Linked DNA regions of Homo sapiens: regions 1 and 3 are each linked to region 2. Evidence: fine-mapped expression QTL. A gene starts in region 2. Each other region holds a variant in brackets. All regions are shown on one strand. Distances are between the middles of the regions. Region 1 overlaps TMEM38A (transmembrane protein 38A). Region 2 holds the start of TMEM38A (transmembrane protein 38A). Region 3 has its middle 19 kb from the start of NWD1.

Evidence for each region.
Region 1: its variant is fine-mapped to the expression of TMEM38A in whole blood (TOPMed, PIP above 0.99).
Region 3: its variant is fine-mapped to the expression of TMEM38A in nasal epithelium (TOPMed, PIP 0.92).

Annotation. Positions count from the first base shown.
Region 1 is chr19:16,683,340-16,693,150 of GRCh38, forward strand. TMEM38A (transmembrane protein 38A) reads left to right here. Exons shown (of 6, transcript NM_024074.4): 5 at 2,949-3,066; 6 at 4,805-6,684. The coding sequence ends at 5,032. Among named protein-coding and RNA genes, the nearest start is that of TMEM38A, 27 kb to the left of the region's middle. The variant C/T (reference allele first, on the strand shown) is at 5,794.
Region 2 is chr19:16,656,857-16,666,667 of GRCh38, forward strand. TMEM38A (transmembrane protein 38A) reads left to right here and starts at 4,283. Exons shown (of 6, transcript NM_024074.4): 1 at 4,283-4,485. The coding sequence starts at 4,362. SMIM7 (small integral membrane protein 7) reads right to left here and starts at 3,288. Exons shown (of 5, transcript NM_024104.4): 1 at 3,229-3,288; 2 at 3,103-3,144; 3 at 2,539-2,591. The coding sequence starts at 3,254. RefSeq lists silencers at 3,881-4,080, 4,101-4,350 and an enhancer at 4,636-5,444.
Region 3 is chr19:16,695,964-16,705,774 of GRCh38, forward strand. No RefSeq gene overlaps it. Among named protein-coding and RNA genes, the nearest start is that of NWD1, 19 kb to the right of the region's middle. The variant A/G (reference allele first, on the strand shown) is at 4,297.

The sequences.
Region 1 (9,811 bases), 26 kb after region 2:
GCACTTTGGGAGGCCAAGCCTGGAGGTTTGCTTGAGTCCAGGAGTTCAAGACAAGACTGGGCAACATAGTGAGACCTATTCTATATTAAAAAAAAAAAGTTAAATTAGCTAGGCATGGTGGGATGCACTTGTGGTCCCAGCTACTCAGGAGGCTGAGGCAAGAGGATTACTTGAGCCCAGGAATTCGAGGCTTCAGTAAGCTAGGATCATGCCACTGTACTCCAGCTTGGGTGGCAGAGCAAGACCTTGTCTCAAAAAAAAAAAAAAAAAAAGGGATCATGCATTTAAATCACCTGGCCCTGGAACCTGGTGAGTGCTTTGGAAATATTAGAGAGAATTATCATCATTAGGCTGGGCACGGTGGCTCACGCCTGTAATCCCAGCACTTTGGGAGGCTGAGGTGGGCAGATCACCTGAGGTCGGCAGTTTGAGACCAGCCTGACCAACATAGAGAAACCCCATTTCTGCTAAAAATACAAAATTAGCTGGGTGTGGTGGTGCATGCCTGTAATCCCAGCTACTTGGGAGGCTGAGGCAGGAGAACCACTTGAATCTGGGAGGCGGAGGTTGCAGTGAGCCGAGATCACGCTATTGCACTCCAGCCTGGGCAGCAAGAGCGAAATTCCATCTCAAAAAAAAAAAATTAACTAGGGGTGGTGGCATGCCTGTAGTCCCAGCTACATGGGAGGCTGAGGCAGGAGAACCGGTTGAACCCGGGAGGCAGAGGTTGCTGTGATCCGAGATCCTGCCACTGCACTTCAGCCTGGGCAATAGAGCAAGACTCTGTCTCAAAGAAAGAAACAGAGAGAGAGAGAGAGAGAGGAAGGAAGGATTATTAAATACATGCAGTGAAGCTGGGCATGGTGGCCCACCCCTGTAATCCCAGCTATTCAGGAAGCTGAGGTAGGGGGATTGCTTGAAACCAGGAATTCAAGACCAGCCTGGGCAACATTACAACATCCCATCTCTAAAAAAAAAAAGAAAAAAAAAATTAGCCAGGTGTGGTGGTGTGTGCCTGTAGTCCCAGCTACTCAGGACGCTGAGGCAGGAAGATCGCTTGGTCTCAGAAGGTTGAAGCTGGAGTGAGCTGTGATCACACAAGTGTACTCCAGCCTGGGCAACAGAGCGAGACCTTGTCTCAAAAAAAAAAAAGCAATGAGAGACAGACATCAGGAATAGAAGTCACAGGTCTGTCTTTTGCAACAAATAAAAATATCTTAAACCTATTTTGCAAGGAAAAAAATAAAAGTTAAGGAAAACTCTGCATGTTGTAATCACATTTTCTGGGGGAAATAAGCTGATGGGGGATCCCCAAGATCATCCTGATGTTCCATGATTTGCTAGAAGGACTCAGAGAACTTAGCAAAGCCATTATATTCAGGGTTATGATTTATTACAGTGACAAGATATAGAATAAAATCAGCAGAGGCAGCTCACACCTGTAATCCCAGCACTGTGGGAGGCCGAGATAGGAGGATTGCTCAAGGCCAGGAGTTCAAGACCAGCCTATGCAATAGAACAAGACTCCATCTCTACAAAAAAAAAAAAAAAACTTAAAAATTAAGCAGGCACAGTGGCACATAACTCTAGCCCTAGCTACTTGGGGGGCTGAGGTGGGAGAATCACTTGAGCCTCAGAGTTTGAAGTTACAGTGAGCCATGATCAGACCACTGCACTCCAGCCTGGGTGATAGAGAGAGACCCTGTCTCTGTAAATAAATAAATAAATAAATAAATAAATAAATAAAACGAAATCAGCAGGGGTTGGCTGGGCGTGGTAGCTCATGCCTGTAATCCCAGCACTTTGGGAGGCTGAGGCGGGTGGATTATTTGAGGTCAGGAGTTCAAAACCAGCCCGGCCGACATGGCGAAACCCCATCTCTAGTAAAAATACAAAAATCAGCTGGCGTGGTGGCGGGCATCTGTAATCCCAGCTACTCGGGAGGCTGAGGCAGGAAAATCACTTGAACCCAGGAGGTGGAGGTTGCAGGGAGCTGAGATCATGCCACTGCATTCCAGCCTGGGTGACAGAATGAGACTCTGACTCATACACAAACAAGAAATCAGCAGGGGCAAAATGTGCATGAGGCAGAGTACAGGAAAGAAAAGGTGAAAATATCCAGTTTTCCTCTCCCAGTGGAATCATGTGGACAGGGCTTCATTCTCCCAGCAGCAATGTGTGACAACATGCATGGTGTACTGCCAACCAGGGAAGCTCTTCTGAGCCTGGGTATCCAGGATTTTTATTGTGGCTCAGAACTAGCTAACCACCTGTGTGGCTGACCTCAGTCTTCAGCCCCTCTAGAGGTCCACCTGATGCTGCATGGCCCAAGACCCCCACCATAAATTACGTTGTTACTACCTGGTGTGGCCCAAGGCCGTCCTCAGGCAAACAAAGACAGTCTTATCAAGGCAGGACACTCCAAGGGCTTAGAGGGCATATTCCAGGAGCTGGACAAAGGCCAGATCTTTCCTTGGACCAGGTTAACCCATCATGCATAGGATGACACCATCTCAACCTGCCACCTTACAATCAGGAGAAGCTGTGGCTGGGCGCAGTGGCTCATGCCTATAATCCCAGCACTTTGGGAGGCCGAGCAGATCACTTGAGGCCAGGAGTTCGAGACCAACCTGGCCAACATGGTGAAACACTGTCTCTCCTAAAAATACAAAAATTAGCCAGGCATGGTGGCATATGCCTGTAATCCCAGCTACTTGGGAGGCTGAGGTGGGAGAAACACTTGAAACAAGGAGGTGGAGGTTGCAGTGAGCCGAGGTTGTGCCACTGCACTCCAGCCTGGGCAACAGAGTGAGATTCCATCTCAAAAGGAAAAGAAAAGAGAGAAGCTGGGATGGGAGCTGGTGCCAGGGCAGGGGGGTGTCTGGGCCAGAGTTATGAAGACTTGAGCCATGCAGGCACCTCCCGGTAATGACAGCTGCTCCCTCCAGCCCCACCAAGGCCAGCCTGTATGGAGCCATCCTCTTCACCCTCCAGCAGACCCGCTGGCTCCCAGTGTCCAAAGCCAGCCTCATCTTCATCTTCACCTTGTTCATGGTGTCCTGTAAGGTAAGCCTTTCTCTTCTTGCAGCATTCTTGCCTTGACCAATGCCACCCTGCCACCTCCAGGTTGGGAGTGGGGAAATTGGACACTCCCAGCCTTATGTGGCTGGGACAGGCAGCCCAGAGAGGGGAGATGCTTGCCAGTAGGTCACTGGGAAGAGAGTTTAAAAGGCAGTGTCCAGCAGCCAGGACACAGATGAGAGGAACAGGCCTTCTGTGTAAAGGACCCAGCCTGAGCCAGGGTCAAGGTGGGCCCACTCTCTTGGGTACAGAGACCAGAGGGACAAGAAGCTGAAATGGCAGCATCAGGTACCCAGGAACTCAGTTGGACCAGGAATACTTCTAGTCTGACAGTCATGCCTTGAGTTGACATCACCCCACCCAGGAGGGGTCTTCAGGGGCTGGGCTCTCTCCCTCTGCATGAAGATCTTAGCTCAGGGCTGTGTCTTCCCTGGGTGAGGACTCCAGGGCTGTCAAAAGGGAGTGAGCATGTCTTCCTGCATTAGGCGAGAAGGGAGAGGCAAGCAGATGGCTGGGATCCTGTCCTGCTATGTTTGTAGCTCTACCCCAGGCCAAATGTCTTAGTCCATTCAGGCTGCTGTATAACAGAATGCAGTACCATAGACTGGGTGGCTTAGAAACAACAGAAATTTATTCCTGGGCAGGCACGGGGGCTCATGCCAACACTTCAGGGGGCCAAGGCAGGCAGATCACTTGAGGCCAGGAGTTCAAGACCAGCCTGGGCAACATGGCGAAACCCCATCTCTCCTAAAAATACAAAAATTAGCCAGGCGTGGGGTCACATGCCTGTAATCCCAGCTACTCGGGAGGCTGAGGCAGGAGAATCGCTTGAACCCGGGAGGTGGAGGTTGCAGTGAGCTAAGATCGCACCACCGCACTCCAGCCTGGGCAACAAATTGAGACTCTGTCTCAAAAACAAACAAACAGGCAAACAAAATACAAATACAAAAATTAACCAGGCGTGGTGGCGCATGCCTGTAATCCCAGCTACTTGGATGGCTGAGGCATGAGAATTGCTTGAACCCAGGAGGTGGAGGCTGCAGTGACCTGAGATCATGCCATTGCACTCCAGTTTGGGCAACAGAGTGAGACCCTGTCTCCAAAAAAAGGAAAAGGAAGAAATGTATTTCTTACAGTTCTGGAGGCTGGGAAGTCCAAGATCAGGGTACTAGCCTGGTCGGGTTCTGGTGAGGGCCCTCTTTACTGGTTGCAGATAGGCAGCATCTCACTGTGTCCTCGCATGGTGGAAGGGACTGGTTAGCTCTCCTGGGCCTCTTTATAAGGGCACTAATGTCTTTCCTGAGGGCTCCACCCTTATGATCTAATTACCCCTCCAAAGGCCTTACCTCCTAATACCATCACCTTTGTGATAGGTTTCAACATATGAATTTGGGAGGACACAGACCTTCAGACCTGCACTTAGCACAGCTTTTCTCTGAGCCCAGGTGTCGTGGGGAATTCTGGGGGATGGGTGACCAGCAGTCTCAGTGTGCTTGGAACTTTCCAGGGGTCAACACTTGAAATCTGGCATCCTGGGAAACCTGAGATGGTCGCCCATCATCCTGGGGGTGCATGCAGCCAGAGGGCTGGGTCTGGGCTACCTCCAACCTTGACTTTGATGACATTCTCTCCCCTCTTCTCCCCACCCTGCCCTCCACTCCTTTGCTTTCTACCTTGGTCTCCCTCTGTCTCTCTTGCTGTCTCCCTGGCCACCCCACCTCAGGTGTTTCTGACAGCCACCCACTCACACAGCTCCCCCTTTGATGCCCTGGAGGGCTACATCTGCCCCGTGCTGTTTGGTTCGGCCTGCGGGGGTGACCATCACCACGACAACCATGGTGGGTCCCACAGCGGTGGTGGGCCAGGAGCTCAGCATTCGGCCATGCCCGCCAAGTCCAAGGAGGAGTTGAGCGAGGGCTCCAGGAAGAAGAAGGCCAAGAAGGCGGATTAGGGGGTGGCCCAAGGGGCACCGGGGAGAGGACCCGGACCCAGGACCCTCTGAGCTGGGAGGCTTCCTGCGCTCAGATCTATCCTTTCCTGGCCTTGACTTCCCCATCTGCAAATCAGGGTCATTGGCTCACCCTCCAGGGCTGATGTGGGGGTTGAGATATGGGGATGAGGATGAAGAACTTTTGTAGAAATCGGGGTTCCCTCTTTCTCTCTGCCAGGACCCCATAGAGTCACAGCTTTTGGAGGGGTTCACAGAATCCTGGCAGCAGCTCCAGTCAAGAATGTCACTGGTTGGCATGATATTCTTAGTTGTATTTTTCCTTCTTTAAAATTGCATCTTGACCAGGCACAGTGGCTCATGCCTATAATCCTAGCACTTTGGGAGGCCGAGGCGGGCAGATCACCTGAGGTCAGGAGTTCAAGACCAGCTTGGCCAACATGGTGAAACCCCATCTCTACCAAAAATACAAAAATTAGCCAGACGTGGTGGTGCACGCCTTTAATCCCAGCTACTCGGGAGGCTGAGGCAGGAGAATCACATGAATCCAGGAGGTGGAGGTTGCAGTGAGCTGAGATCTTCCCACTGCACTCCAGCCTGGCCAATAAGACCTGTCTCCAGCAAGACCCTGTCTCAAAAAAAAAAAAAAAAATTGCATATTGACTCCTGAAGAACTTCAAGCCATGTTGAGATCCATTCATTTGATGGACATTTTCTAAGTACCTGTGAGCCAGGTGCTGCCATTTCAAAGTCTCTTCTTACCA[C/T]GCTCCTCAGTGGCTAGACATTTTCACGTGGCCAGAAAGTCCCGACTCTTGCTGGGCGTCCCTGGACAAGTTGCCTTCCTCCTCTGAGCTTGGCGCTCCCCATCTGTATAGTGGAGACCCTTGGCCCCCCTCTGTACGGAAGGGCCGATGCGAAGCTGCAGTTAAAAAAGGCTCACATGCTCCTAGCCTCGTGCAGTCAGGAGGGGAGACCAGGACAGTTGGAAATTATGATTGCAAATGGCTTTGCATTTTAGATCATTCGTGTGTGTGGATCAGAGAAACGCACAAGTTCCCTGGCACAAAGGAAGCCCTCAGTAGACACGTCTAGGGCAGGCTTGAGAGATCAGATGGCGTGAAAGGCTTGTGATCTGTTCGTCTCAGGCTCCCCCTAAACCAAAGAAATGGAAACAGCTGGTTGGGGTTCCACGATCCAGCTCTATCAAGGGGCTCTGAGTGTGCACAGTTGGGACCTGGATGTATCAGGTCTCCCTCAGGCTGGAGTCCACTGTCACTCATTCAGCCATTGAACAAACATACAGATGCTTACCTGCTCTGTGGTCAGCCTTGTGCTGCTGCTGGGCGGGCCAGGAGCCTGCTTCAGTGTGAGCGAGGTGGATGATATTATAGCTGAAGGGTCCCTCCTGGTCACCCTCATCTCAGCCTAGGTCACCAGGATGTCTGAGAGGGGTGGGTGCATGGGACGGGCGTGGCCAGTCTCAGGTGAGGTTTGGGCCCAGACCTCGTTGGAGTCCCAGACGTTGCCAGGCTGTTGGAAAATTGCCTTGTTCCTGTGATGCCTGGGAGTTAGGTGGGTCCTGGGGAGGTTTCATCCTCTTGCTTGTCCACCTCAGCTCGGTGTGGAGGGGCAGCCAATAAATCATTGTGAATGAACCCTCATGGCTTGTCTGATTTATGCCTGGGATTTTGTTTTTTGTTTTTGTTTTTGTTTGAGACCGAGTCTCACTCTTGCCCAGGCTGGAGTGCAGTGGCCCGATCTTGGCTCCCTGCAACCTCCACCTCCCGGGTTCAAGCAATTCTCCTGCCTCAGCCTCCCGAGTAGCTGGGATAATAGGTGCCCGCCATCACACCTGGCTAATTTTTGTATTTTTAGTAAAAGCGGGGTTTCACCATGTTGCCATGCTGGTCTTGAACTCCTGACCTCAAATGATCCACCCACCTTGGCCTCCCAAAGTGCTGGGATTACAGGTGTGAGCCACTGAGCCCAGCCACATGCCTGGGATTTTGGCCTCAAGATGTGGGGATGGCTGGGCATGGTGGCTCATCCCTGTAATCTCAGCACTTTGGAGGGCTGAAGCGGGCAGATCACCTGAGGTCAGGAGTTCAAGACCAGCCTGGCCAACATGGTGAAACCCTGCCTCTACTAAAACTACAAAAATTAGTCAGGTGTGGTGGCAGGTGCCTGTAATCCCAGCTACTCGGGAGGCTGAAGCAGGAGAATCGCTTGAACCTGGGAGGTGGAGGTTGCGGTGAGCTGAGGTGGAGACATTGCACTCCAGCCTGGACAACAAGAGCAAAACTCATTCTTTAAAAAAAAAAAAAAAAAAAAAAGGCTGGGCATGGTGGCTCACACCTGTAATCCCAGCACTTTGGGAGGCCAAGGCAGGTGGATCACGAGGTCGGTGGATCACGAGTTCAGTAGATCAAGACCATCCTGGCTAACATGGTGAAACCCCATCTCTACTAAAAATACAAAAAATCAGCTGGATGTGGTGGCGGGCGCCTGTAGTCCCAGCTACTTGGGAGGCTGAGGCAGGAGAATGGCGTGAACCTGGGAGGCAGAGCTTGCAGTGAGCGGAGATCGCGCCACAGCACTCCAGCCTGGCAGACAGAGCGAGACTCCATCTCAAAAAAAAAAAAAATGTATACTGTGTACAGTATACATTACATACATTATATGAAATCCTAGAAAAAGCAAACTAATGTATAATTACAGAAAGCTGATCAGTGGGTGCTTGGGGAAAGGCAGGTAGGGTGGGGTGGGCAGGAGGGATTTTGAAGGGGCAAGGGGACATGAGTGATGAGTCTGTTAACTTCTTTGATTGTGTTAGTTTCTCGGGTCTATACACATGTCAGAACCTATTACATTGTACATTGCAAATACACACAGTACCTCATTTGTCAGTGATGCCTCAATAAAGCTGTAAAAAAGAACCCTTCAATTATAAGGGAAAAAAGTGCGAGCTTGGTGGCTCACGCCTGTAATCCCAGCACTTTGGGAGGCTGAGGCAGGAGGATCACTGGAGCCCAGGAGTTGGTGATCAGCCTGCACAACATAGTGAGACTCTGTCTCTACAAAAAAAAATTTAAAAATTAGCCGGGGGTGGTGACTCGTGCCTGTAGGCCCAGGCACTCTGGAGGTTGAGTGGGGAAAATCACTTCAGCCCAGGAGGTTGAGGCTGCAGTGAGCTAAGATTGGGCCACTGCACTTCAGCCTGGGCGGAACAGTGAGACCCTGTCTCAAATAAATAAATAAAATAAGAATAAAGTAGAAAAAAACTCCACACCAAATTGGGCAAAAGAAGCTGGGCATGGTGACTCACACCTGTAGTCCTAGCTACTCTGGAGACCAAGGCAGGAGGATCACTTGAGCCCGTTAGGTGGTGTCCAACCTGGGCAACATAGCAAGACCCTGTCTCAAAAAAAAACTGGGCAAAAGATTTGAATAGACACCACCAAAGAAATTATATGGTTGGCAGATATCATATAAATTGCACATTAAAACCACAAGCATATGCCACTGCATACCTGTTATGAATTGAATTGGGTTCCTCTCAAATTCATTTGTTGAAGTCTTAACCCCTAAGGTATTAGGGGGTGGGACCCTTGGGAGATGATTAGGTCATGAGGGTGGGGCTCTCATAATGGGATTAGTGCCCTTACAGAAGAGGCCCCAAAGAAACACTTTGCTCTTCCTACCATGTGAGGACACAGAGAGAAGACACGTATGAACCAGGAAGCCGGCCCTTACCACACAGTGAATCTGCCAGTATCTTGATCATGAACTTCCCAGCCTCCAGAACTGTGAGAAATAAATTTCCGTTGTTTATAAGCCACCATTTTCTAGTATTTTCTTGTAGCACCCTAAATGGACTAAGACAGGAGATAAGGCCTTTTTTTTTTTTTCTTTTGGAGATGGAGTTTCCCTCTTGTTGCCCAGGCTGGAGTGCAGTGGCGCCATCTCAGCTCACTGCAATCCCTGCCTCCCAGGTTCGATCGATTCTCCTGCCTCAGCCTCTGGGATTACAGGCATGTGCCACCACGCCCAGCTAATTTTTTGTATTTTTAGTAGAGACAGGGTTTCACCATGTTGGCCAGGCTGGTCTGGAACTCCTGACCTCAGGTAATCCACCTGCCTCGGCCTCCCAAAGTGCTGGGATTACAGGGGTGAGCCACCGCACCCGGCCTAATTTTTTTGTAGAGTTGGGGTCTCCCTATGTTACCCAGGCTGGTCTCCAGCTTCTGGCTCAAGTGATCCTCTTGCCTTGGCCTCCCAAAGTGCTGGGATTACAAGCATGAGCCACTGCTCCCCGCCACCTTTTAGAATGGATAAAATAAAAATAACCGACAATATCCAGTGTAGGTAAGGATTTGGGGGCAGCTGGAACTCACACACTGCTGGTGGGAGACAATTGGACAGTTTCTTTTAAGGTTTTTTATGTTTTTAAAATTTTTAATTTTTTACATTTTTTTTTGAGACAGGGTATTGCTCTGTCGCCCAAGCTGGAATGCAGTGGCTCAATCTTGGCTCACTGTAACCTCCGCCTCCTGGGTTCAAGCGATCCTTCCACATCAGCCCCCTGAGTAGCTGGGACTACAGGTGCATGCCACCATGCCTGGCAAAGTTTTGTATTTTTTGTAGAGTCGGAGTCGTGCTCTGTTGCCCACACTGGCCTTGAACTCTTGGGCTCAAGCAATCCTCCTGCCTCAGCCTCCCAAAATGCTGGGATTACAGGCGTGAGCCACCATGCCCAGTCAGATACACATCTTCAGCCATGAG
Region 2 (9,811 bases):
CCACTGCACTCCAGCCTGGGCAACAGAGAGAGGCTCCATCTCAAAAAAAAAAACAACAAAAAAACAAAAAACAGGCTTTCTGAGGAAGTGCCAGAGCTCCAAGTTCTGACCTCAAACATGGGCAGTTTAACAAATGTGAGCTCAAATCCTGCCTCTGTCCTTCTGCACAGGTGACCTGGTGACCTGGGACCATCCCTGCACTATCTATGTGCATTCCCTCTTGTGTCAATAGGGGTGTCAGGCAGCTAGGAAGACCTTAGCACACTGCCTGGCACGCATGACGCTCTCAACAAATGCAGCCACTATGGTATTACAGTTAAGCCAGGCAAAGAGGATGGAGGGCAAAGAGCAGCTCCCACAGGGGAAGCAGCAGGTGCAGCACCTGGGCTGGAAGGAGACTGGACACAGCAAAGCAGGAAGCTCCTGACAGAGCACTGGTGCCCTGCCTGGCATCCCTGTCACTGATGCTCCTGCCACTTTGTGCCAAATCTCCCGCCCACTGGAGCTCTGATTCGGATCTGTACAGTGCAACTCTAGGGCCTGGTAGTGCCTTCCACGTGGGGGTTAAGTAACACATGGCTGCTGAGTCAATGTATGAATGGATGGATCAATGGATAGACGGACAGATGGTCTAGTGATTGAGTGCACAACCGCTAGAGTCAGAAAAACCCAGGTTCTAATCCTGATTCTCATTGATTCCCTATGTGGCCACAAAAAAGTTGAGCCACATCTCTGACCCTCAGTTTCCTGATCTGTAAAATGGGAAAGTGACCATTATCTTTTAAGAATGGAGGGAGAATGCAACACTAACAGGAAGCACCTAACTGGGTCAGCACCCAAGGGCAGGCCCCCAAAAAGGGGAGCTGCTGGAGTGTCTTCAAAATCTCAGCTCGGCCAGGCGTGGTAGCTCATGCCTGTGATCCCAGCACTTTGGGAGGCTGAGGTGGGAGGATCGTTTGAGACCAAGAGTTGGACACCAGCCTGGTTAACACAGCGAGATACCTATCTCTACAAAAAACATTTAGAAAATTAGCCAGGCGTGGTAGTAAGTGCCTGTAGTCCCAGCTACTTGGGAGCCTGAGGCAAGAGGATCTCTTGAACCCAGGAGCTCAAGGCTGCAGTGAGCTATGACTGTGCCGCTGCACTCCAGCCTGGGCAACAGAGCAAGACCCTGTCTCTAAAAGAAGAAAACCTCTGTTCCTCAGGGTTCCCCCATCCTTGGGCAGTGCTCCATCATGGCATCCACCGCCTTGACTGTGACGCCGCCTCCTCAAATGGCCTTCCCTTCCACACCCCAGCAGGAGGGCAACCCCATCACCATCCTGTGACTCCCTGCCTCTGTCACCTAACGTCACCTCTGTCACTATCTATTCCCTGCTTAGAAACCATGTGTCCCACCCCATGGTAAGTTCCACTCTATCTGTCTTACCCCTGCTGTACCCCAGCACCTAGCACAGTAGCCAGCATGCGTTAGGTACTCAAATATCTGGTGAATGAAAGAATTAATGAATGGATACAATAGTCATGTACAGATCCCCTTAAGACTCCAAATAGTTACACAATCAAATTCAGCAGGAAGTGTAAATTCTGGGGCCTCCAGGGCCCAGGCAGATGATAGACATATGAAGGGGTTAGGGCTGGGATGAGGCAGAGTCTACAGGCCCCACCTCCTCAGAGTCCTTCTCAACTACACTCAATAGATGCAAACAGCTCTCCTGAATCTTGAGTTGCAGAATGTTCCAATTTTTCAAGAAAAATCAGACATCTTAATTTTTATATAAAATCTCCTGATTAAAAATCTAATGTTGGCATCTAATTTTAAAAGTGGCAGGTCTGCAGCACTCTGAAAGCAACAGCTATGTGTGAGGTTGTTCATTCATTCATTCACAGGCATCGGAGGACGGGTACGGCAAGAACAAAGGATGGGACAAGCCAAGCTAGGGCCTCTTCTCTGAAGTTTACAGTCATATGTGAGGGGCAGACATTAGCCAGATGACAGCAAACATAACAGAACATTATAACGGTAGGAAGTGATGTGAGTGCTCACATCAGGGAGGTCTGGTAGGAGAAAGAAATAGATGACAGAGGTAGGCAGAAAGGCTAGCACATTCTCAGTCATCTCCCACTCACACACACGCTCAATTAAAGAGAAAACTTGTGGCTCACGCCTGTAATCCCAGCTCTTCGGGAGGCCAAGGCAGGGATCACTTGAACCCAGGAGTTCGAGACCGGCCTGGGCAACGTGGAGAAACCCCATCTCTACAAAAAATACAAAATTTAGCCTGGCATGGTGGCACACACCTGTAATCCCAGCTACTAAGGGGGCTGAGGTGGAAGGATCACTTTAGCTCAGGAGGTCGAGTCTGCAGTGAGCCATGATCGCACCACTGCACTCCAACCTGGACAACAGAGCAAGACCTTGTGTCAAAAAAAAAAAAAAAAAAAAAAGAGAAAGAAAGAAAACGAAGGTAGGGCTTGGCGAAACAGAACTGTCCTCTGAAGTGGACCATGCAATTCCAGGATCCAATTAGACCTTACCTGTGCTGGGCTCCCTGGACTCCTCCCCAAAGCCCTGCGTGTCCTTCTTTTTCCTACAAAGAGGAGCAGACAGTGTCCACTTTCAATGGGACATAGAGTCCTCAGCCCCCTGACCCCCAGCTCAGAAGGCCACAAACACTAAGTTTCAGCCCTGGCCCTGCCGCAAACTTGCTGTGTGACCTCTGACGTTCAATACCCTTCTCTGGGCCCCCACTGCCCGGACAATCACAGCCAGGTCAGCAGCCACCGACCGTTTACAAAGTGGCCCGACAGTGCGGGTGCAGGGCGGAAGGTCCGCGGTGGGGCTATTTCTTGGGGGATGGGGCTTAAGCTCTCCAGGAAGGTGAACAGAGGGACAACCAAGGAACGGAGAGTATGGGTTTAAGGTCTCTCGGGGGGTGGGGGGCGAGGAAGATAAACCAGGCTGGAGGCGTGCCCAGAGGGCGGATAGGGCGGGGCCTGCGGCTTGGGGGCGGGGCCTGAGAAGTGCGCCGAGATCACGCTTATGAGGGCGGGGCTACGGGTTCCCCGGATGGAGCCGCAGTCCGGCCGCGACCTACTCACAGCTTAAAGTTCAGCACCGCCCCGGCATTCATCAGCAACGTCCTGCAGAGGGAGAATTACAGTTACTAGGGGCGCCCCCGCGTCCTGCCTGGCTCTCTCTTCCCAGCCTCTGGTCCCCCTAATTACCCGAACAGCAGGATGTCTCCGATCATCGTTACGGCCGAAGCGTCCGTCAGAACCGGAAGCGGAAGCCCCAGGGAGGGAGGGGAGAGGAGCACAAGCCGACCAATCCTAAAGCAACAGTGGCGAGGGCTGGGCCAATCGAAGGTCAAGGCTGGGAGGGTCCCGCCCTCTGCAGGCCAGACCCCCTTAGGGGAGCGCGAGCGCCCCACCTCGCTGGGGAGGCCCCGAGAGCCAGAATGGGAGGAGCGGGGTCTCCTGGGGGCGGGATTGGGTCACGCGTTCGAAGCGTGCCGCGCATGCGTGAGGTCTCGATGCCGTAGGGTTAGCTGGGCAGCAATTCCTACTCACTTTCTGGGGTCCCAAATTGGGCTTCTGGACAAAAGGAATCCTTTGACTCCTGAGCTGCACAGGGTGCGGGGTCCTGACGCAGTGGGGTCCCTAGAAACGGGTGCCCCAACCAACTGGGCTCTAAAATGAGATCCTCCTGGGCCCCATGGGGAACGGGGGTTCCCACTGAGCTGCCCCCCACAAGACGTCCTGATTTGCAGAGCCCCACCGGAGACGGGGTTCCTGATCGAACGGACCCTATGGGGCAGAAAAGTCTTGACGGGGCTCCACAGAGGACCGAGGTCCTAACCTATCTCCACGGGGAACAGGGGTTCTGATTCATGGGGTCCCACCATGGCGTAGGGGTCCTCACTGGGCTCCACCGAAGATCGGGGTCCTAATTGAGCCCACGGGGACAAAGTCCTGGCCGATCCGGCCCCCTGGGAACGGGCGTCCCGCGTGGGTGGGCTCCGTGAGGGACGGGCCCCCAGAACAGGCAGCTCCCCAGCCTCCCTCGCCTTGCACGGGTGCCCCGCACCCCGCCTCGCTGGGCGGAACGGGGTAGCGATGGCAGGAGGGTCAACGCCTGGGACGCCCGACCGTCCAGCTGCGTCCGTGGTGCTGGGCGTCCCCACCACCTGTCCCGGGGTGGGCCGTCGCCCCTCCTCTCCCGCGGGGGCCGGGCCTGGGGTGGCGCCTGGCGGGCGGGGGCGGGCCCAGCTGCGGGGGCGCAGTCGCCGGGCCGCGGGCGGCGGGACGGACGAGGCCGGGGCCCCGGGTGGCACCCGGCAGGCGGGCAGGCGGGCGCCATGGAGCTGCTCTCGGCGCTGAGCCTGGGCGAACTGGCGCTCAGCTTCTCGCGGGTGCCGCTCTTCCCCGTCTTCGACCTCAGTTACTTCATCGTCTCCATCCTCTACCTCAAGTATGAGCCAGGTGAGCCGGGGCGGGGGGCTGGAGGGGACCGGCAGCGGGTGGCGCGGGCCGGGGCAGCTCGGGGGTCGCAGAGAGGGGAAGCCCGTGCGTGGTGGAGGGAGCGAGGGACAGGTTCAAGGATTGCATCGTGGGAGTAGGCAGGCGCTAGAATCGTGGGGTTCTCTCACGCCGGGGTGAGCCCGGGGGAGAAGCCCCCAGGACGATGAAGCTGGGGGAGGGGAAGGAGAGGCGTGCGCGGGTTTAGAGGAGGGGGAACAGGTGCTTGGGGTCGGGGCTCCTGGTTGGGTCAGAGCTGCAGGAACTTGGGCAAGGGGCGCCGGCTGTGGCGAGGGTGCAGGTGGGGGTCGGTGCATCTGTTCTGGCCGCGCGCAGGTGTGACCTCCCTCCTTGACCTTGGCACGCGGATTGAGAGCGCCAGCGGAGTGTCTATAAGGGCCACTGCGCTGGGGGCTGCGGTCAGGTTCAGCGAAAGTGACACCGGTTCTCCTCCCCACTGCAACTGCCCAGCACCCTCCACTCCCCTCCCTTCCCCCACGGTGCTGAATCTCCGAGCCCCCACGGGAATTCTTCCAGCCCTGGCTCCAGATCCTTTCCACTTACGGAGCAGAACCGGCCCCAAGGCTGGGTGACTTGGGGTCAGTGTCCTCCATCTCAGCTCCAGACTCCACGCTGGGGAGGTCACAGGAGGGTACAGCCTGCTTCTTAATTTTTAAAATGAGGATGAATGGCTTCCTTAGAACGTGTTCTATTTTTATAAAAGGTTCACCGTGAACAAATGTTTAAATGTTTCTTGTTCACCGTTATTCTAGAACACCAGCAACTTACTAGATAATAGATTTTAGGCTTAGAAAAATAAAGGAACCCCAAACTTCATAAGCCTTTCTCCCACTTAGATGTAAATTACCACTATAGCTCAGAAAGGAAATAGCTTTATTCTCAGAGGATAAAAATAAGCGCCCCTGTTTACTAAAAACTCAAACTGAAAAGGGCAAAGGAAAAAAAGAGAATTACTGTCAACATACTGGTGGCCAGCCACCTTTCTTGATGTCTCTTCTATTCATTTACGGCTATATAGTTATAAACGTAAATGCACGCTTTTTTTTTTTTTTTTTTTTTTGCGGTTTTTTTTTTAGATGGAGTTTCGCTCTGTCGCCCAGGCTGGAGTGCAGTGGCGTGATCTCGGCTCACTGCAACCTCCACCTTCCAGGTTCAAGCGATTCTCCTGCCTCAGCCTTCTGAGTAGCTGGGACTACAGGCACCCGCCACTACACTTGGCTAATTTTTGTATTTTTAGTAGAGACAAGCCTTCACCATGTTGGCCAGGATAGTCTCGATCTCCTGACCTTGTGATCCACCCACCTAGGCCTCCCAAAGTGCTGGGATTACAGACGTGAGCCACTGCACCCAGCCAATGCACGCTCTTATGCTAACAGGATTACACTCTATTTGCTAGGAATTTTTATTCTATTTTTGCCTATCCACATGCCAGAGCCTATTTTCTTAAAAGCTATCCTGGAGAACATTACTTTGCAAAACAAAATAGGCTTTTGTGTTGTCCTAGCATGAACATGGGGCTATCTTTCCTTTCTGGGGAAGAATTCTTGGTGGTTCAGGCCAGTTCCTTGGGCAGTTGCAGAACCTTAGAAAATCTGAAACTGGCTGGGCACAGTGGCTCACGCCTGTAATCCCAGCACTTTGGGAGGCCAAGACGGGCAGATCGCCTGAGGTCAGGAGTTCGAGACCAGCCTGGCCAACATGGAGAAACCCCGTCTCTACTGAAAATAAAAAAATTAGCCAGGCATGGTGGCACATGCTTGTAATCCTAGCTGCTTGGGAGGCTGAGGCAGGAGAATCACTTGAACCTGGGAGGCGGAGGTTGCAGTGAGCCGAGATCACGCCATTGCACTCCAGCCTGGGCGACAGAGCAAGACTCTGTCTCGAAAAAAAAAAAAATCTGAAACTGAGGAGGGTTGGAGCCCTGTGGGAATGTAGGACACAAATGTCTTGAGAAAAGAGGTCTCCAAGCTGCCTGGGAACTTGCAGGAAGGTTCAAGATATTTCTGCAGAAGTCCTAGAATAAGCCATCCAGGCTCTAAGTGCCAGAGCCTGAAGGTTCCTGAAGGCTGAGAAGTGGTTCCAAACCCTGGCTATTCATGAATTCATGAGACGCTCCTGGGAGCTTTTTTTCTTTTCTTTTTTTTTTTTGAAACGGAGTCTCGCTCTGTCGCCCAGGCTGGAGTGCGGTGGCGCCGCCTCTGCTCACTGCAAGCTCCGCCTCCTGGGTTCACACCATTCTCCTGCCTCAGCCTCCCAAGTAGCTGGGACTACAGGCGCCCACCACCATGCCCGGCTAATTTTTTTTTTTTTTGTATTTTTAGTAGAGACAGGGTTTCACCGTATTAGCCAGGATGGTCTCGATTTCCTGACCTTGTGATCCGCCTGCCTCGGCCTCCCAAAGTGCTGGGATTACAGGTGTGAGCCACTGCGCCCGGCCTCCTAGGAGCTTTTAAACCCCCTATCTCCACCCCCCACCAATTGAATCAGAATATTAATCTCCCCTCCCTCAGTGACTGATGTCTGTTATCAGGGCTGAGGATACTCCACCCAGTTCAACCTCCTCCTTTCATAACTGGGGAAACAGGAAATAGTGGCTAAGCTATCTTAAATACACAATGAGCCTGTGGTCCCATGGCTGGTCAGTTGCAGCCTCGGGACTCAGCCCAGGTCTGCTTGACTCTAAGAATCAGTACAATTGATGTGAGATTGGTTTCCTTAGAAAAGAAAGGTGTTGGAGGCCAGATGTGATGGCTTATGCCTGTAATCCCAGCACTTTGGGAGGCGAGGCGGGTGGATCACTTGAGCCCAGGACTTTGAAACCAGCCTGGGCAACATGACAAAACCCCGTCTCCACTACAAATGCAAAAAAATAGCCAGGTGTGGTGGCGCACGCCTGTAATCCCAGGTACTTGGGAGGCTGAGACATGAGAATAGCTTGAATCCAGGAGACGGAGGTTGCAGTGAGCCGAAATCTCGCTGCTGCACTCCAGCCTGGGTGACAGAGCCTGGCTGAGACTCTGTCTTGGAAAAAAGAAAGAAAGAAAAGAAAAGTGAGGTGTCGGATTGAACTGTTAGTCCCAGTTTGGTGTGCGTGCTGGGTATCTGTAAATTTTCTTCTCAGAATTTGTGTGCTGGACCAGCTACAGAATTTGCCAGGCCGATACAAAGTATCAGTGTGGGGCCTTTTGTTCAGAAATTAAGAATTTCATAGCCAGGCATGGTGGTGTGTGTCTGTGGTCCCAGCTACTTGGGAAGCTGAGGCTGGAGGATCACTTGAGCCCAGGAGTTGGAGCTCAACTGCGCCTGGCTGGGTCAGGCTTTCTTGAGAATCCTGAGAATGGATGAAGCTCAGAGTGTGGTCCTCAACAGAGCAGCATCAATGTTGCCTGGGAGCTGCAGCGAGCTATGATCACCCCACCGCCCTCCAGCCTGGGCAACAGAGCAAGACCGTGTCTCCTAAAAAAATAATAATAATAATAAAAAAAGAATGTCAGCATAGGTCAGATAATCTCAGCATTTGGGGAGGTCAAGGTTGGAAGATTGCTTGAGGCCAGGAGTTCATGGCCAGCCTGGGCAACATTGTGAAACCCCTTCTCTATAAAAAATACAAAAATGGCTAGGCGCGGTGTCTCATGCCTGTAATCCGAGCACTTTGGGAGGCTGAGGTGGGCAGATCACCTGAGGTCGGGAGTTCAAGACCAGCCTGACCTACATGGAGAAACCCTGTCTCTACTAAAAATACAAAATTAGCCGGACGTGGTGGCACATGCCTGTAATCCCAGCTACTAGGGAGGCTGAGGCAGGAGAATCGCTTGAACCTGGGAGGCAGAGGTTGCGGTGAGCCAAGATTGTGCCATTCCACTCCAGCCTGGGCAACAAGAATGAAACTCCGTCTCAATAAACAAATAAATAAAAATTAAAAAATGCAAAATACAAAAATATTAGCCAGGTGTGGTGGCATGTGCCTGTAGTCCTAGCTACTAGGGAAGCTGAGGTCGGAGGATTACCTGAACCCTGCAAGGTGGAGGCTGCAGTGAGCCATGATCGTGCCACTGCACTCCAGCCTGGGCAACAGAGTGAGACCCTGTCTCAAAAAAAAAAGAAAAAAGAAACTAAACGTCTCTGAATCATGGGAGTCAGTTCTACCACTAGCACTGAGTAAACACCACAATGGTTATTTCACCACCATGAGCTTCAGTTTATTTGTCTGTGAAATGGGATCATTGGTAAGAGAACCCCAGACTCCCTTTCCTAGCGATTGTAAAGATCTATTGAGAATTTTGTCAGGGATAAGGTCTAAGGCATTTGTGAGGGGTGGTGATGTTTATTTGGAAGTCTAGGGAGGAATATATTACTTGGGATACTGGCATTTTCTGGGTCAGGCTTGCTTACTTTTCTGTTTCTTTTCTTTTCCTTTTTTTTTTTTTTGAGATGCAGTCTTGTTTTGCTGCCCAGGCTGGAGTGCAGTGGCACGATCTCAGCTCACTGCAACCTTCACCTCCCAGATTCAAGTGATTCTCCTGCCTTAGCCTCCTAAGTACCTGGGATTACAAGCATCCACCACCACACCCAGCTAATTTTTTTGTTTTGTTTTGTTTTTGGAGACGGAGTCTTGCCGTGTCTCTAGGCTGGAGTGCAGTGGCTCGATCCCGGCTCACTGCAACCTCCACCTGCCGGGTTCAAGCGATTCTCCTGCCTCAGCCTCCCGAGAAGCTGGGATTACAGACACGCGCCACCATGCCCAGCTAATTTTTGTATTTTTAGTAGAAACGGGGTTTCACCACGTTGGCCAGGATGGTTTCAATCTCTTGACCTCGTGATCCGCCCACCTTGGCCTCCCAAAGTGCTGGGATTACAGACATCAGCCATTGCGCCTGGCCCATTTTTTTTGTATTTTTAGTAGAGATGAGTTTTCACCATGTTGGTCAGGGTGGTCTCAAATTCCTGAACTCAAGTAATCCACCCGCCTCAGCCTCCCAAAGTGCTGAAATTACAGGTGTGAGCCACTGCTCTTGGCCAATTTAACTTTAAAAAAATTTTTTTTTTTCGAGACAGGGTCTTGCTCTGTCTCCCAGGCTGGAGTGCAGTAGTACAGTCATAGCTCACTGTGGCCTCCAACTCCTGGGCTCAAGCAATCCTCCCACCTCAGCTTCCCATGAGCAACTGTGCCTGGCTGGGTGAGGCTTTCTTGAGAATCCTGAGAAAGAATGAAGCTCAGAGTGTGGTCCTCAACTGAGCAGTGTCAATGTCACCTGGAAGCTGATTAGAA
Region 3 (9,811 bases), 39 kb after region 2:
AGATGGAGTCTGGCTTTGTGGCCTAGGCTGGCGTGCAGTGGCGCCATCTCGGCTCACTGCAACCTCCACTTCCCGGGTTCAAGTGATTCTCATGCCTCAGCCTCCCGAGTAGCTGGGATTACAGGCACGTGCCACCATGCCTGGCTAATTTTTGTATTTTTAGTAGAGATGGAGTTTCACCACGTTGGCCAGGCTGGTCTTAAACTCTTGATCTCAAGTGATCCACCCACCTCAGCCTCCCAAAGTGCTGGGATTACAGGCATGTGAGCCACCCTGCTTGACTGACTATTTTAACTTAATTGTCTCTTTAAAGACCTTATCTCAATCAGTTTGGTGCTAAAAAAATTTAAAAAAAAAAGACCTTATCTCCTGTTTTAGTCCTTTCAGTGTGCTACAACAAAATACTATAAACTGGTGGCTTGTAAACAACAGAAATTTATTTTTCATGGTTCTGGAGGCTGGGAAGTTCAAGATCAAAATGCTGGCAGATTCACTGTCTGGTAAGGGCTGGCTATCTGGTTCACAGATGGTGTCTTCTTTTGGTGTCCCCACATGGTAGAAAGATCAAGGAGTTTCTTGGGGGCCTCTTGTGGAAGGGCACTAATCCCATTATGAGGGCCACATCCTCATGACCTAATCACCTCCCAAGGGCCGCACCTCCTAATACCATCACCTTGGGGCTAATTTTGGACTCAGGTGATCTTCCTACCTTGGTCTCCCAAAACAAAGGGATGTGAGTCTCTGTGTCCAGCGTCCTTTAAGGATGGATTAAATTAAAGTAACTGACAATGCCTGGTGCAGGTAAAGATTTGGGGGCAGCTGGAGCTCGCACACTGCTGGTGGGAGACAATTGGACAGTTTCTTTTAAATTTATTTATTTATGTATTTATTTGAGATAGGGTATCACTCTGTCATCCAGGCTGGAGTCCAGTGGTGCAGTCATAGGTCACTTCAGCCTCGACCTCCTGGGCTCATGTGATCCTCCCGCCTCAGCCGCTTGAGTAGCTGGGACTACAGGCACACATCACCACATCCAGATAATTTTTGTATTTTTTATATAGATGATGTCTCGCCCTGTTGCCCAGGCTGGTCTGAAACTCCTGGGCTCAAGTGATCCTCCTGCCTCAGCCTCCCAAAGTGCTGAGATTACAGGTGTGAGCCACCTTGCCCAGACTGATAGTTTCTTATTAAATTAAACATCACTTACCCTATAAACACAACAATCCCTGATAGTTTCTTATTAAATTAAACATCACTTACCCTATAAACACAACAGTCCCATTGTGGTGAAACAAAAATTCACCTATTTTTTTTTTTTTTGGTAATCACCAAAAACTGGGAACATCCCAAATGTCCATCAGTTGGTAAGCGGATGAGCCACCTGGTTTATGCATGTGATGGAACATTACACAGCAATGAAAAGGAGTGACCTTCTACAGCAGTGTGGTTGAATCTCAAATGCATTTGCTAAATGAAAGAATCCAGACCCAAGAGACTGTGTGCTCCCATTGGCGGGACATTTTATCTTTAGAGATGGGGTATTGCTTTGTCACCCAGGCTGGAGTGCAGTGGCAGGAACATGGATCATTACAGCCTCAAATTCCCAGGCTCAAGGGATCCTCCCGCCTCACCCTCCTGAGTGGCAGGGATTGCAGGTGCGTGCCACATACTCGGCTGTAGGTCATTTTAGAAATACAAAATTTTGGGCTAGGTGCAGTGGCTCACACCTGTAATCCCAGCACTTTGGGAGGCCGAGGTGGGTGGATCATTTGAGGTCAGGAGTTTGAGACCAGCCTGAAACCCTGCCTCTACTAAAAATACAAAAATTAGCTGGGGGTGGCAGGTGCCTGTAGTCCCAGCTACTCAGGAGGCTGAGGCAGGAGAATTGCTTGAACCCAGGAGGCAGAGGTTGCAGTGAGCTGAGATCGTGCACCACTGCACTCCAGCCTGGGTGACAGAGCGAGACTCCGTCTCAAAAAAAAAAAAAAGAAAAGAAAAGGAAAGACAAAATTTTAAGTATAGAAAACAGATCAGTGGCTGCCAGGAGTTGAGATGGAAGGAGAGATTATCCACAAGAGAGACAGAGGAATTTTGGGAGGGAAGGGACTGTTCTGCATTTTTAACGTGGCAGTAGTTACACAACTGTATATGTTTGTATAAACTTGCAGAATTCGCCCGGCAGCGTAGCCCTTTTGGGAGGCTGAGGTGGGAGGATCACCTGAGGCCAGGACTTTGAGACTAGCCTGGGTATCATGGTGAAACCCCATTTCTGCAAAAAATACAAAAATTAGCCGGGCATGGTGGCATGTGCCTGTAGTCCTAGCTACTCAGGAGGCTGATGTGGGAGAATCACTTGAGCCTGGGAGGCAGAGGTTGCAGTGAGCCGAAATTGCACCACTGCACTGCAGCCTGGGCAACAGAGCCAGACCTGTCTCAAAACAACAAACAAAAAAACAAACAACAAACAAAACAAAAAACCCACAAAGAAACACTACAAAAAAAACCTTGCAGAATTTTGTGGCTAAATTCTACCTTAATCTAAAAAGAAAAGGAAAAAGAGAGCAGCCTTTGGGGTTTCCCAAATCTGTTCAAATCCTGTCTTTGTTTTTTTTTTTTTTTTTTTTTTTGACAGATTCTCACTCTGTTGCCCAAGCTGGAGTGCAGTGGTGCCATCTTGGCTCACTGCAACCTCCGCCTCTCGGGTTCAAGTGATTCTCCTGCCACAGCATCCCGTGTAGCTGGGATTGCAGGCAAGAGCCACCATGCCTGGCTAATTTTTGTATTTTTAGTAGAGTCAGGGTTTCAACATGTTGGCCAGGGTGGTCTTGAACTTCTGACCTCAAGTGATCCTACCCGCCTCGGTCTCCCAAAGTGCTGGGATTACAGGTGTTAGCCACCATGCCTGGCCAAACCCTGGCTTTTAATCTCCGAGATACGTAGCTTGGGCAAGTAACTCCCCTTCTCTGAGCCTCAATTTCCTCTTAGGATGGCTAGGAGGAGTGACTGGAAAGTCCTTGGCACAAAGTGAGGTCTGGAGTTGGGACAAAAGCTGCCTCTGTCAAAGTGCTCACAGAACCCCTGGTCGGGTTCATTTAGCATCTGGTGGGTGTTGGAGATAAGTCGGCTCCCTGCCTTCTGGCACTAATGTTCTGAGATCTCATTTTCCAAGAGAACAGATTGTACCAAAATAGCCTCCCAGCCTAGTCTGCGAAGGGGGTGTGCAAGCCACTGGCCAGGTGGAGAATGATTGGCGGGGCAGGCTGGGGCTGTTGTCCCAGTGTGGGTGTGAGAACTTGGAGGATCGGCTCTCAAAGTCCAGGCTAATTTGGCTGCAAGTTACACTCAGTAACTTCCTTGGTCTTGGAATGAGAGAAAGTTTCTTTTTATCCTTTTTAAAAAAAATTGTGGTAAAATACACAACATAAAACTTATCATCTTTTTTTTGTTTGTTTGAGACAGGGTCTTGCTCTATTGCCCAGGCTGAAGTGCAGTGGCACAATCACAGCTCACTGCAGCCTTGACCTCCTGGGCTCAATCCATCCTCCCACCTCAGCCTCCCAAGTAGCTGGGACTACAGGTGTGCACCACCATGCCTGGCTAATTTTTTTGTATTTTTAGTAGACACCGGGTTTCACCATGTTGCCCAGGCTGGTCTCAAGCTCCTGAGCTCAAGCAATCCACCCACCTTGGCTTCTCAAAGTGCTGGGATTACAGGCATGAGCCACCACACATGTCCTAAATTTCTTAGCCACATTTGAGTGTATACTTCAGGGGCATTAAGTATATTCACATTGGCTAGGCATGGTGGCCCATGCCTGTAATCCCAGCACTTTGGGAGGCCAAGGCGGGTGGATCACTTGAGGTCAGGAGTTCAAGACCAGCCTGGCCAATATGGTGAAACCCCATCTCTACTAAAAATACAAAAATTAGCTGGGCGCAGTGGCACGCACTTGTAATCTCAGCTACTCAGGAGGCTGAGGCAGGAGAATCACTTAAACCCAGGAGGCGGAGTTTGCAGTGAGCCCAGACTGTGCCATTGTACTCCAGCCTGGGCAACAGAGCGAGACTCCATCTAAAAAAAAAAAAGTATATTCACATTGTTGTGCAACCACCACCATTACCCAGCTCCAGAAATCTTTTCATCCTGCAAAGGTACCCATTAAACACTCACTCCCCACTTCCCTCTTCCAGCCCTTGGCAGCACCATTGTACTTTGTCTCTCTGAATTTGATGACTCTAGGAACCTCATATAGGTACAATCATACAATACAGGTGCTCTCCGATTTACAAATTACA[A/G]TTTTCTTGAGTTTACAATGTTTCAAAAGAGGCCAGGTGCAGTGGCTCACGCCTGTAATCCCAGCACTTCGGGAGGCCGAGGCGGGTGGATCACCTGAGGTCAGGAGTTTGAGACCAGCCTGGCCAACATGGTGAAACCCTGTCTCTGCTAAAAATACAAAAAAAATTAGCCAGGCATGGTGGTGGGCGCCTGTAATCCCAGGACTTTGGGAGGCCGAGGTGGGCGGATCACCTGAGGTCAGGAGTTTGAGACCAGCCTGGCCAACATGGTGAAACCTGGTCTCTACTAAAAATACAAAAAAATTTGCCAGACGTGGTGGGCACCTGTAATCCCAGCTACTTGGAAGGCTGAGGCAGGAGAATCACTTGAACTGGGGAGGTGGAGGTTGCAGTGAGCCGAGACTGTGCCATTGCACTCTAGCCTGGACGACAGAGCAAGACTCTGAGACTCTGTCTCAAAATAAATAAATAAATAAAATAAAAATAAAAATAAACAAAAAATAAATGTTTCGAAAGAGATTCACATTCAGTAGAAACCATGCTTCAAGTACCCACACCACCATTCTATTTTACTTTCAGGACAGTATTTAATAAATTACATGAGCTATTCAACACTTTATTACAAAATGGGCTTTGCGTTAGTTGATTTTGCCCAAGTGTAGGTTAATGTAAGTTTTCTGACCATGTTTAAGGACAACTAGGTGAAGCTATGATGTTCAGTAGGTTAGGTGTATGGAAATGCCTTTTTTTTTTTTTTTTTTTTTGGAGACAGGTTCTTGCTCTGTCGCCCACGCTGGAGTGGTGCAGTGGTGCGATCTTGGATCACTGCAACCTCTGTCTCCTGGGCTCAGGTGATCCTTCCACTCAGACTCCTGAGTAGCTGGGATTACAGGTGAGCACCACCACGCTGGCTAATTTTTTGTATTTTTAGTAGAGATGGGGTTTCATCATGTTGCCCAGGCTGACCTCGAATTTCTGGATTCAAGTGATCCTCCTGCCTCGGCCTCCCAAACTGTTGGGATTACAGGTGTGAGCCACTGTGGTGCAATTATCCCACACTACAGCTTCAAACTCCTAAGTTCAATTGATCCTCCTGCCTCAGCCTCCCAAGTAGCTGGGACTACAGGTGTACACCACCACACCTGGCTAATTTTTAAATGTTTTGTAGAGATGAGGTCTTGCTATGTTGCCCAGGCTGGTCTTGAACTCCTGGCCTCAAGTGATGCTCCCACTTTGGCCTCCTAAAATGCTGGGATTACAGGTGTGAGCCACCATGCCCAGCCATAAGCAGGTATTTTACATATAATAGATCGTCAAGGTGGTTTGTTACCCTCATTTTGTGGAAAATAAATGAGGCTGGGTGCTAAGGTGAGTGGAGGTCAGTCACCTCTTACTGACAGTGGGTCAGAATTGAAATCCAGTCTTGGTGCAGTAGCTCACGCCTGTAATCCCAGCACTGTGGGAGGCCAAGGCAGGCAGATCACCTAAGTTCAGGAGTTCGAGACCAGCCTGGCCAACATGGCGAAACCCCGTCTCTACTAAAATACAAAAAATCACCCAGACAAGGTGGCACATGCCTGTAATCCCAGCTCCTCGGGAGGCTGAAGCAGGAGAATTGCTTGAGCCTGGGAGGCAGAGGTTGCAATGAGCCGAGATCACGCCACAGCACTCCAGCTTGGGTGACAGAATGAGTGAAACTCCATCTCAAAAAAAAAAAAAAAAAAAAAAAAGAATTGAAATCCAGGCCCATCTCATTCTAAAGCTATGCTTTTTCTTGCACATTTCACTTCTCTGATTCTCTTTAGGAATATGTAAGATACATGCATGGAACAATTCAGCATTATCCTTGACACTGAGCAGGCATCAGCAAATAATACCTAGAGCAGGCATTAGCAAAGGCAAGTTCTTATCCTGCTCTCCTGGTTCCTAGATCATCATCCCTGGTGACCACAGACGTGGGTGGTTATGACTGCGTTTACACTGTGCTTTCCTGTTAGCGCCTGCCTGAAGGCATGTAGGAAAACTCCCAGCTCAATTAGTGGAGGAAATTGAGGCCATTGAAGCCAGCTGAGAGGTGAAAGTGACTGCACAAAGACAGATGTTGGCAGGCCTGAGTGTGAGCTCTGGTTTTGCAACTAACTTGCGTGTGACCTTTGGTGAACCCTTCTTGGCTGATTGAAAATGTTGAACTAGGCCGGCCCGGTGGCTCCCAAAGTCCTGTAATTCCAGCACTTTGGGAGGCCTAGGTGGGCAGATCACTTGAGGTCAGGAGTTCAAGACCAGCCTGGCCAACATGGCAAAACCTCATCTCTACTAAGTACAAAAATTAGCCAGGTGTGGTGGTGGGCACCTGTAATCCCAGCTACTCGGGAGGCTGAGGCAGGAGAATTGCTTGAACCCAGGAGGCGGAGGTTGCAGTGAGCCGAGATCACACCACTGCACTTCAGCCTGGGCAACACAGCGAGACTCTGCCTCAGTTGAAAAAAAAAAAAAGAAAGAAAAATGTTGAACCAGGCAGGTCAAGAGTGTGTAAACCATGGCCCAAGGGCCAAATCTGGCCCCTACTTGTGTTTGTAAATAAAATTTTCTTGGCACGCAGCCATGCTCATTTGTTTACTTATCGCCTATAGAGATTTATTATTATTATTATTATTTTCTTTTTTGAGACGGAGTTTCGCTCTTGTTGCCCAGGCTGGAGTACAGTGGTGTGATCTAGGCTCACTATAACCTCCGCCTCCCAGGTTCAAGTGGTTCTTTTGCCTCAGCCTCCCAAGTAGCTGGGGTTACGGGCACCTGCCACCACGCCCGGCTAATTTTTGTAGTTTTAGTAGAGACGGGGTTTCACCATGTTGACCAGGCTGGTCTCAAACTCCTGACCTCAGGTGATCTGCCCGCCTCGGCATCCCAAAGTGCTGGGATTACAGGCCTGAGCCACTGTGCCTGGTACCTATAGTGGATCTTGTGCTACAACAGCAGAGTTGAGTGATTTCAACAGACCACCTTACCTGCACAGCTGAAAATATTCACTCTCTGGCCCTTTGCAGAAAATGTTGGCCAACCCCTGGACTGGATGATGCTGAAGATCCCTTCTAACTCTAAATATCTGAATTCATAGAGGAAGTGAACATTGCAATTAACTAGGCAAAAACCAAGAGAAATTTATCAAACTCTGAGCTGCACAAATGAGTATCTCACCATCCCGCAAATGTCCATGTTTCCTCAACAGAAACTGACCATGGGGCTGGGTGTGGTAGCTCATGCCTGTAATCCCAGCACTTTGTGAGGCAGAGGAAGGAGGATCACTTGAGGCCAGGAGTTCGGACCAGCCTGGCCAACATGGCGAAACCCCATCTCTATTAAAAATACAAAAATTAGCCAGGCATGGTGGCACGTGCCTGTAATCCCAGCTACTCGAGAGGCAGAGGCACAAGAATTGCTTGAACCTGGGAGGCAGAGGTCACAGTGAGCTGAGATCGTGCCACTGCACTCCAGCCTGAGTGAGACAGTGAGACTCTGTCTCAAAACAAACAAAAACAAAACAAAACAAAAACAACAACAACATTGGTCTGAGGCCAGGCATGGTGGCTCACGCCTATAATCCCAACATTTAGGGAGGATAAGGTGGGTGGATTGCTTGAGCCCCGGAGTTTTTGAGACCAACCTGGGCAATGTAGCAAGACCCCATCTTTACAAATATGAACAAAAATTAGTCTGGCATGCTGGCGTGTGTCTGTGGTCCCAGCTAACTTGGGAGGCTGAGGTGGGAGGGTCTCTTGAGCCTGGGAGGCAGAGGTTGCAGTGACCTGAGATTATGCCACTGCACTCCAGCTTTGGTGTCAACGTGAGACCTTGTTTCAAAAGAAAAAAAAAAGTCTTTGGTCTGTCTTACACTGGGAATGGTTCTACTCATTCATGCCTATAACATGCATTGATCATTTGGAAAATATTAGTTCAATGAGTGATGCAGATGTTGTCCCATTACATTATTTTGTATCAAAAAAGTCCTCTTCATTAATATCACTATTCATCTCATCAGAAAAGTGTGCAGCCGTGCAATCATAGCTCACTGCAGCCTTGACCTCCTGGGCTCAAATGATCCTCCCACCTCAGCCTCCTTGGTAGCTGGGACTGTAGGCGCACATGCCAGCACGCCGGGATAATTTTTTTAAAAAACTTTTTATAGAGACAGGGTTTCACTTTGTTGCCCAGGCTGGTCTCAAACTCCTGACCTCAAGTGATCTTCTCGCCTCAGCTTCCCAAGTAGCTGGGGTTACAGGCTTAGAAAAGTCTTTAAATGTCAAGAAGCTGCCAAACTCACAGTGGTGGCTACACATTTTCCAAAATTCTGATTTCTCCTTAAAAGCTTGAATTTTATTGTGGGCAACAAAACCTGAAATTGTTTTCCTTGAAGTGACAGCCTCATTTTGTTCATTTTTGAGAAAATGTCTGCCAAGCAGCCACATCTGAATCACAGTTTGTCAGACATTTCCAGTAAAAATGGTGTTACCCGAGAAAGGCCACTAGCTTGGCTGTGGAGGCAGCAAACCATCATTCAATCACGTTTTCTAGAGATGACCAAGGACTGAATCCTCAGCAGGGGAATTTTATGTGGACCTCCCGTATTGCTAGTCAGAATATGAAAAAGACATGCCCTCTCCTGTTATGGGGCAAATTGTGTCCCCCCCAAAAGATATGTTGAAGCCAGGCTGGGCACAGTGGCTCACGCCTGTAATCCCAGAACTTTGGGAGGCTTGGAGTGGGGGGGGGGGGGTGGATCACAAGGTCAGGAGTTCGAGACCACACTGGCCAACATGACAAAACCCCGTCTCTACTAAAAAAAATACAAAACTTAGCCAGGCATGGTGGCAGGCACCTGTTATTCAGCTACTTGGGAGGCTGAGGCAGGAGAATTGCTTGAACCTGGGAGGTGGAAGTTGCAGTGAGCCGAGATCGCCCCACTACACTCCAACCTGGGCGACAGAGTAAGACTCTGTCACAAAAACAAAAACAAAACAAAACAAAAACAAAAAACAACTTCCTATTGGGTACTGTGTTCACTATCTGGGTGACGGGATCAATGGAAGCCTAAACCTCAGCATCATGCAATATATTCTTATGACAAACCTGCACATGTACCCCCTGAATCTAAAATAAAAATGGAGGCCGGGCGTGGTGGCTCACGCCTGTAATCCCAGCACTCTGGGAGGCTGAGGCAGGTGAATCACCTGAGATCAGGAGTTCGAGACCAGCCTGGCCAACATGGTGAAACCCCGTCTCTACTAAAAATACAAAAACTAGCTGGGCATGGTGGCAGGCGCCTGTAGTCCCAGCTACTGGGAAGGGAGGCTGAGGCAGGATTATCGCTTGAATCTGGGAGGCAGAGGTTGCAGCAAGCCAAGATCATGGCATTGCACTCCAGCCTGGGCGACAAAAGCAAAACTCCGTCTCGAAAATAAATAAATAAATAAGTAAAATAAAAATGGAAATTTAAAGGAAGAAAGAAATGGTGCTTACT